Homo sapiens: one gene and its partner. The protein of the gene in region 2 purifies or fractionates together with the protein of the main gene of each other region. This does not show direct contact. Each region holds a gene or a part of one and is shown on either strand. Other genes may lie near its edges. The genes, in order: NEK7 and ZNF556.

Region 1 (3,824 bases), on a different chromosome or scaffold from region 2:
AGAATCCAAGTCTTTTTAATTAAAGAAGTAGTTATTAGACACTACCAGAGAGGGCTGGCCTCTTTACACATGATGCTTTAAACTTCATTGCAATCTTATAAGACAGGTAGTATTGGCCACAATAACAAGATGAGGATTGAGGCTCAAAAAGATTAAATAATATGCTTATGATCATAAAACTAGTAAAGGACAGAATCAGGACTTGAAGCCAGGTTGTTCTAGCTCCATAGTCAGTGTTTTCTCAATGAGCCAGGCTGTCACAAAGTCTAATGCATACACAACTAGCTAATAAGTATTAAAATATATGTGTGTACAAAGTGTAGTATTAGAAACCTAAGGAAGAAATTCCTTCCATGTAGGGTGGCGGGTACCATTAGAGGTGAACCTTGAAAGAATTATAGGATTCTGCCAGTCAGAAACAAAAGATATCTACTGCATAAAAGTAAATATGGAATAAGGGTGTAAAATTACAGCTTATAAGAGGCAACTTTTTCTAGATATCATTCTTAATATCCAAAGATACACAAAGTTCTAATTTGTCTTAATTTAAAAAACCATATGAAGATATTAGATAAGATTATAAAGCAAAAATAAAATCCATAAACTCACTGCCTTAAAGAATTTTAGCTTTGGCTCAGTCCCTTCTATTTCTTGTACAAACGCATGTGCTTTTTGCATAGTGAAAATAGCAGTATATAAAATGATATATATGCTTTTTCACTAACATTATTTTGGTTCTACTACTTCTAATGAAAACTTCAAGTATCAAATTTACGTTCTGCAACTTTTAATGTAAAATATTGAGCACTGCAGTTTAAGATTTGAAAAAATATAAAGCCTTACCTTACTTGATGGTTTACAAAAAGAGACAGACTAGATTACATCAAAGTTTCTCCCACTTAATCAAATAACAGAAGAAGAAATATGTATGCCGGTACATATATTAAAGAGAGTTAACTTCTCTTTTTTCCATTAGCAGTAATTCTAACCATGTCAGCCACAGTAAACTCATGTTAACTACCATGATTTCAGAATGGAACAGAATGCAACACGATGAAACAACAGCAAGGAAAGGAAAAGGGGTTAAAAAAAAAAAAGGAAAGGACTATGAGTGGCAAATCACTATCACAAAGTTCACATAAACTATCTAGTAAGATATGTTTTAGCTAACATTAAGCTGTTGTATACATTAAGCTTTGACAAAATGAGCTAGATATAAATGGACACCAATAGCAGGGGTTAAAAAAATTACCAGTATTAAAGAACAAACCATATGACACTATTTATGGAAGGAAGGAAAAACCTTGCAGAAATTTTCTCCAAGAGCATCATAGTTTTAACTCTACACACAAATTATTAATATGAATAACCTGATCCTGAGTACAGACAAGCTTAAACTGTTAATGCCCACCCTTTCTACATATAAAAATCCATGCTGAATGCCATCTTACTATCAGATTTTATTACAGATACAAATAAGAAAACCATCTTGCAGTCCTTTAAGATGCACAGTGTCAGATGCAGAATGCAGACTGCAACACAGAAAATTAACACGCAACTTGTAAGTGCTACTTGTTCAAAGTGATGTAAGAACCTTAATGGGGGTGAGCATGGCTGGCTGGAAGGGCTCTCAATAACTGATTTATATAAGCAGGAATGCGTAATGCCCTTCAGGAAAATATATATGTGTGTGTGTGTGTGAGTGTGTGTGTAAAATCGAAAGTTCTTGAACTGAAGGAATAAGCTTTACATTTAGCAATTTCACATAGAAATGCCATTCATTCCCCCAAAGGGATTATTATATCAACATGTTAAACAATAAAACAAACACTAATGGAAACAGAAAAATTTGAACTTGATATTAGTTATAGGTATGAAACACACACACACAGACTACTTGCACTTTAAATCAAAATGGCATGAGAAATAACTGATTCTTGACACATCATAAATGCTGATGCCATTCTCAGGAAATGCTATTTACAAGGAATTTGAGATAAATCAAAGATATACTGGAAAGCACAAAATTGTAAGTATATCAGATCTTGATGTAATTCCTGGTATTTTTGTTTGTTTGTTTTAGGAGGCAGAGAAAGAATAATGCCCATATAGTACCAGTAATTAAAATGAAGAAAATCACAAACTTGGAGACATATATGTATTTAATCTCTCAGTAATCAATGTCTCTATGATGTGGAACAACATTTTTAAAAACAAAAGAGGGTGAGTGAGATAAGAATGAATAATAGATGTATAAGAGTTTTAGGAAACCATAACAAGATACAACATATCAAGATAGAAACATGCTACATAGAAAATCTTTAATTCAAGTTATAAAAATTAATTTAGAATTACAAATTGACTTTTATTTTTAACTGAATTTTCAATAATATCAAAAGTCACTCCTCAAACACAGGGAGAAATAAGCATTGATGGCACATCTAAAGCAAAACTAAATTCTGAGCAAAATACATTTACAAATACATTTAACTGGAAATTCAGAAGTATCTTATCTTTCTTTTTCTCTCAGCCAACAAGTCAAGACAAAAATAAATAATAATGAATATTTAGATTACATCATTCCCAAACACAGATTCAAAGCTGTCCGATGATTTCATGAGCAAGAAAAAGCAGTATGTCTTGGGTGAAAATATGGACTTTGTAAGAATATCTTGCATATAATATGTACAAACAAGTCTTTAGGAGGCATCATTTTCATTCAGCTCCACCAAAGTTTCTTCAGGTTTTTAAACTCATTTTATACTTGGTAAGAGCAAGGGATGAGCTGTGGTTAGGCAAGTAATGACTGATAAATTCTTGGTATTCTCTGAATCATTTTAAAGGTTTTCTTTTGTCATCTTAAAATTTTGCCAAAATTACTCATAGCTAATGAAACTGAAAAGGTTAACACTAGATTTCTTTAAAAGGAAATGAAATCCTTCTAGTAACTTAACAGAAATATCCCCTTAAAAAGGCATATGTCAAATTGTTAGAAGAAAGACCATTTAAAATGCAGAAAACAAAGTACTTAAAAATATATACTAAGCAAGTTTTTGTTGTTGTTGTTTTTCTTTTTTGAGAGAGTCTTGCTTTGTCTCCAGGCTGGAGTGCAGTGGCGTGATCTTGGCTCACTGTAACCTCCACCTCCCGGGTTCAAGCGATTCTCCTGCCTCAGCCTCCCAGGTAGCTGGGACTACAGGCGTGTGCCACCACACCCAGCTAATTTTTGTATTTTTAGTAGAGACAGGGTTTCACCATGTTGGCCAGGATGGTCTTGATCTCTTGACTTCGTCATCTGCCCGCCTCAGCCTCCCAAAATGCTGGGATTACAGGCGTTGAGTCACCGTGCCCGGCTCTACAGCTGGAACCTTCCTGTCACTACCCTTCAGATGACTGACTCCTTATCCTCCACCTACGCTTAAATTTCACATCCTCGGAGAGGCCTTTGCTGCACACTCTATCTAAAATGCTCTCCTCCTCTAGTTTGTCTCTAATACCACAGCATGGTCATTTCCTTTTTGGCTATAATTATTTGATTTATTTTTTGCTATAATTATTTGATTTATTGTCTATTTTCCACACAAAAATGTTGGATTTAATTATTGTGTCCCACTATTGTGTCCCTATTGTCAAGTACAGTGTCTGCCATATAGTAGTTTAACCCCAAAATGTTAAACAATCCATAAAACTGGAAATTTTCTGTTTCTTATCTGCTTAGAAATGCTTAAGATTGCAAGTACAAGTAATTAAAATTAAAAAGCTTTAATTTTAAAGATAAAAGCCTATTCCACCTTGACAAGTAAAAACTAACATTAATTTACCAA
Region 2 (3,824 bases):
CTTACACTAGTACAACAATTCTTGCGCAGATGACGATTACAATTTCGAGTCTTTCTGAAGGTTCTTCCACGTTTATTACCTTTACTGCTTTTACATGGTCTCTCCACCCTTGGATTTCTGCTAAAAATGGGTAGCACATTATTAATGGTTTATGCCTTAATAATTTCTTTTTTTTTTTCCTTGAGATGGAGTTTTGCTCTTGTTCCCCAGGCTGGAGTGCAGTGGCATGATCTTGGCTCACTGCAACCTCTGCCTCCCAGGTTCAAACAATTCTGTCTCAGCCTCCTGAGCAGCTGGGATTACAGTCACATGGCACCACGCCCAGCTAATTTTTGTATTTTTGGTAGAGACAGGGTTTCACCATATTGGTCAGGCTGGTCACAAACTCCTCACCACAGGTGACCCACCTACCTTGGCCTCTCAAAGTGCTGGGATTACAGGCATAAGCCACTGCACCGGCCAATTATTTCTTAATATATATTAATGAATATTAGGATAACATTTTTGCCATTTTCTATACAAGGGTAAGTTTCCTGTACTGTTGAAATTATTTCAAACTAGAATAAACGAAATACTCTGGTAGATAGTTCAACCACAGTCCATTACAAAAACAATAGTAATATGTGGGGCTCTCTGATAATTGTTTCTAACAGAATTATCATTTTTTTTTTTTGAGATAGAGTCTCACTCTGTTGCCCAGCCCAGGCTGGAGTGCAGTGGCACGATCTTGGCTTGCTGCAACCTCCGCCTCCTGGGTTCAAGCAATTCTCCTGTCTCAGCCTCCTGAGCAGCTAGGATTACAGCCACATGCCACCACGCCTATTTTTGTATTTTTAGTAGAGACAGGGTTTCACCATGTCGGTCAGGCTGGTCACAAACTCCTCACCCCAGGTGATCCGCCTCCCTCGGCCTCCCAAAGTGCTGGGATTACAGGTGTGAGCCACCGCGCCCATTTTTGTATTTTTAGTAGAGACAAGGTTTCACCATATGGGTCAGGCTGGTCACAAACTCCTCACCCCAGGTGATCCGCCTCCCTTGGCCTCCCGAAGTGCTGGGATTACAGGCATGAGCCACCGTGCCTGGCGATACTGCCTTTTTCTTCTAAGTACAACTCACCTCAAATGTCTCTCCTTGGTGTTGTGCTTGTCTTTAACGCTATGTTCTTCCCAATTTTTTCCTAAAAGGGAGGCCCATATATTCTTTCTTGTGAACTTTTCTATTTTCTGTTTGAGGGATAATTTTTCTCCAGAAGTATCCTGCTGAGAAATAGACCCACTGGCTTTAAGCTGAGCCTCATTATCTGAAACAAAAAAGTGAACCAATATGATGAGGAAGGCATCTGCAAAGAAAGAAGTAATTCAGGTGTTTAATTGTTTCATGACTTCATTATGTGATTTTATTTTATTTATCTATTTATTTATTTATTTTTGAGACGGAGTCTCACTCTGTCGCCCAGGCTGGAGTGCAGCGGCGCGATCTCGGCTCACTGCAAACTCTGCCTCCCGGGTTCAAGCGATTCTCCTGTCTCAGCCTCCCAAGTAGCTGGGATTACAGGTGCGTGCCACCATGCCCAGCTAATTTTTTTTATTTTTAGTAGAGACGGGGTTTCACCATATTGGCCAGGCTGGTCTTGATCTCCTGACCTTGTGATTCGCCTGCCTTGGCCTCCCAAAGTGCTGGGATTACAGGTGTGAGCCACTGTGCCCGGCCTGACTTCATTATGAAGAAGTACAAGAGCTCTCCTTCTGCCATCTTGGAGCCTGTGGAGGCCTGCAGGGAACACGACTCCCAAAAGAAAATGTGTCTGGAAGGTGGTGGTCCAAGGCCATTTTGGCTGCCTATAAGCAGGGTCTCCAGAACCAAAGGGAGCACACAGTTCTTCTTAAAATTGAAGGTGTTTGGCCGGGCGCAGTGGCTCACGCCTGTAATCCTGGCACTTTGGGAGGCCGAGGCGGGCGGATCACGAGGTCAGGGGATGGAGACCATCCTGGCTAACATGGTGAAACCCTGTCTCTACTAAAAATACAAAAAATTAGCCGGGCGTGGTGGCGGGCGCCTGTAGTCCCAGCTACTCGGGAGGCTGAGGCAGGAGAATGGCGTGAACCTGAGACACAGAGCTTGCAGTGAGCCGAGATCGTGCCACTGCACTCCAGCCTGGGCGACAGAGCAGGATTCTGTCTCAAAATAATAATAATAGTAATAATTGAAGGTGTTTATGTTCAAGATGAAACTGAATTCTATTTGGGTAAGAGACATGCTTATGTATACAAAGCAAACAACAACACAGTAACTCCTGGTGGCAAACCAAACCAAACCAGAATCATCTGAGGGAAGGGCATTCAGGCCCACAGAAACAGTGGCATGATTCATGCCAAATTCTGAAGCAATCTTCCTGCTAAGACCACTGGACACAGAGTCCCTGTGATGCTGTCCCTCTCAAGGATTTCAACTAATGAGAAGCAAAAAAAAAAAAAAAAAAGTACAAGCAGTCAAAATGGTAGACAATTTTAAATACACAGAAAAATCATCACAAGGTTTCAAACAATTAACCTCTCTGTGCCGCCAGTATATACCTGCGCTGGTAACACAAAAGGACCCTAAGTCTTTTCTTTTTCTTTCTTTCTTTCTTTCTTTTTTTTTTTTTTTTTTGAGACAGAGTCTTACTCTGTCACCCAGGCTGGAGTGCAGTGATACAATCTCGACTCACTGCAGCCACTGCCTCCCGAGTTCAAGGGATTCTGCTGCCTCAGCCTCCCAAGTAGCTGGGACTAAAGGTGCCCTCCGCCACACCTGGCTAATTTTTTGTATTTTTAGTAGAGACAGGGTTTCACTATGTTAGCCAGGATGGTATCAAACTCCTGACCTCGTGATCCGCCCGCCTCGGCCTCCCAAAGTGCTGGTATTACAGGCATGAGCCACCGCGCCTGGCTGATCCTAAGTCTTTTCAACAAGGCAGAAAGAAAAGTACAGATTGATAGGTAGATTTTTATTATCACAGAGAAGCTACTGAATTTTAGGTCCAGGACATCAATGATTATAACTGTCTTATTAACCAATGTATTCCCCTTCTGCATTCTAAATCTTAGAATAGGCTTAATGAGCAAGAAATATTTATTTATTTATTTATTTATTTTTTGAGACGGAGTCTCACTCTATGGCCCAGGCTAGAGTGCAGTGGCATGATCTTGGCTCACTGCAACCTCTGCCTCCCGGGTTCAAGCAATTCTCCTGCCTCAGCCTCCCGAGTAGCTGGGATTACAGGCACGCACCACCATGCCCAGCTAATTTTTTGTATTTTAGTAGAGATGGCATTTCACCGTGTTGCCCAGGCTGGTCTCGAACTCCTGAGCTCAGGCAATCCACCCGCCTTGGCCTCCCAAAGTGCTGAGATGACAGGCGTGAGCCACCGTGCCTGGCTCTTTTTTCTTTTTTATTTGAGACAGGGTCTCAAGTTGTCACCCTGGCTGGAGTACAGTGGTGTGATCATGGGTCACTGTAGCCTTGAACTCCTGGTCTCAAGCGATTCTCCTGCCTCAGCCTCTCAAGTAGCTAGGACTACAGGAGCATGCTACCACACCGGGCTAATTTTTGATTTTTTTTTTGTAGAGACAAGGTCTCACTATGTTGCCCAGGCTGGTTGTCAACTCCTAGCCTCAAGTGATCCTCCTGCCTTAGCCTCCTAAAGCACTGGGAATACAGGCATGAACCACTGCAACCAGACAAAACATTTATTATCTAATAACTAAGTGCAGAAATAATGCTATCCTCACCTACTGAGGCCAGGTGCTTGAAGGTCTCCAGCATGACATCTCTGTAGAGTTTTC

What was found.
Region 1: the proteins of ZNF556 (region 2) and NEK7 purify together in Homo sapiens (affinity purification with mass spectrometry; one large-scale study listed by BioGRID and IntAct). This does not show direct contact.

What each region holds. Positions count from the first base shown.
Region 1 is NC_000001.11:198,257,689-198,261,512, reverse strand, and holds part of NEK7 (serine/threonine-protein kinase Nek7), read right to left. Parts: intron 1-3,824. UniProt on the Homo sapiens protein: Protein kinase which plays an important role in mitotic cell cycle progression. Required for microtubule nucleation activity of the centrosome, robust mitotic spindle formation and cytokinesis.
Region 2 is NC_000019.10:2,873,569-2,877,392, reverse strand, and holds part of ZNF556 (zinc finger protein 556), read right to left. Parts: coding exon 3,771-3,824; intron 2,586-3,770; exon of another isoform or gene 2,567-2,585; intron 2,460-2,566; exon of another isoform or gene 2,210-2,459; intron 1,895-2,209; exon of another isoform or gene 1,730-1,894; intron 1,391-1,729; exon of another isoform or gene 1,324-1,390; intron 1,301-1,323; coding exon 1,117-1,300; intron 121-1,116; coding exon 1-120. UniProt on the Homo sapiens protein: May be involved in transcriptional regulation.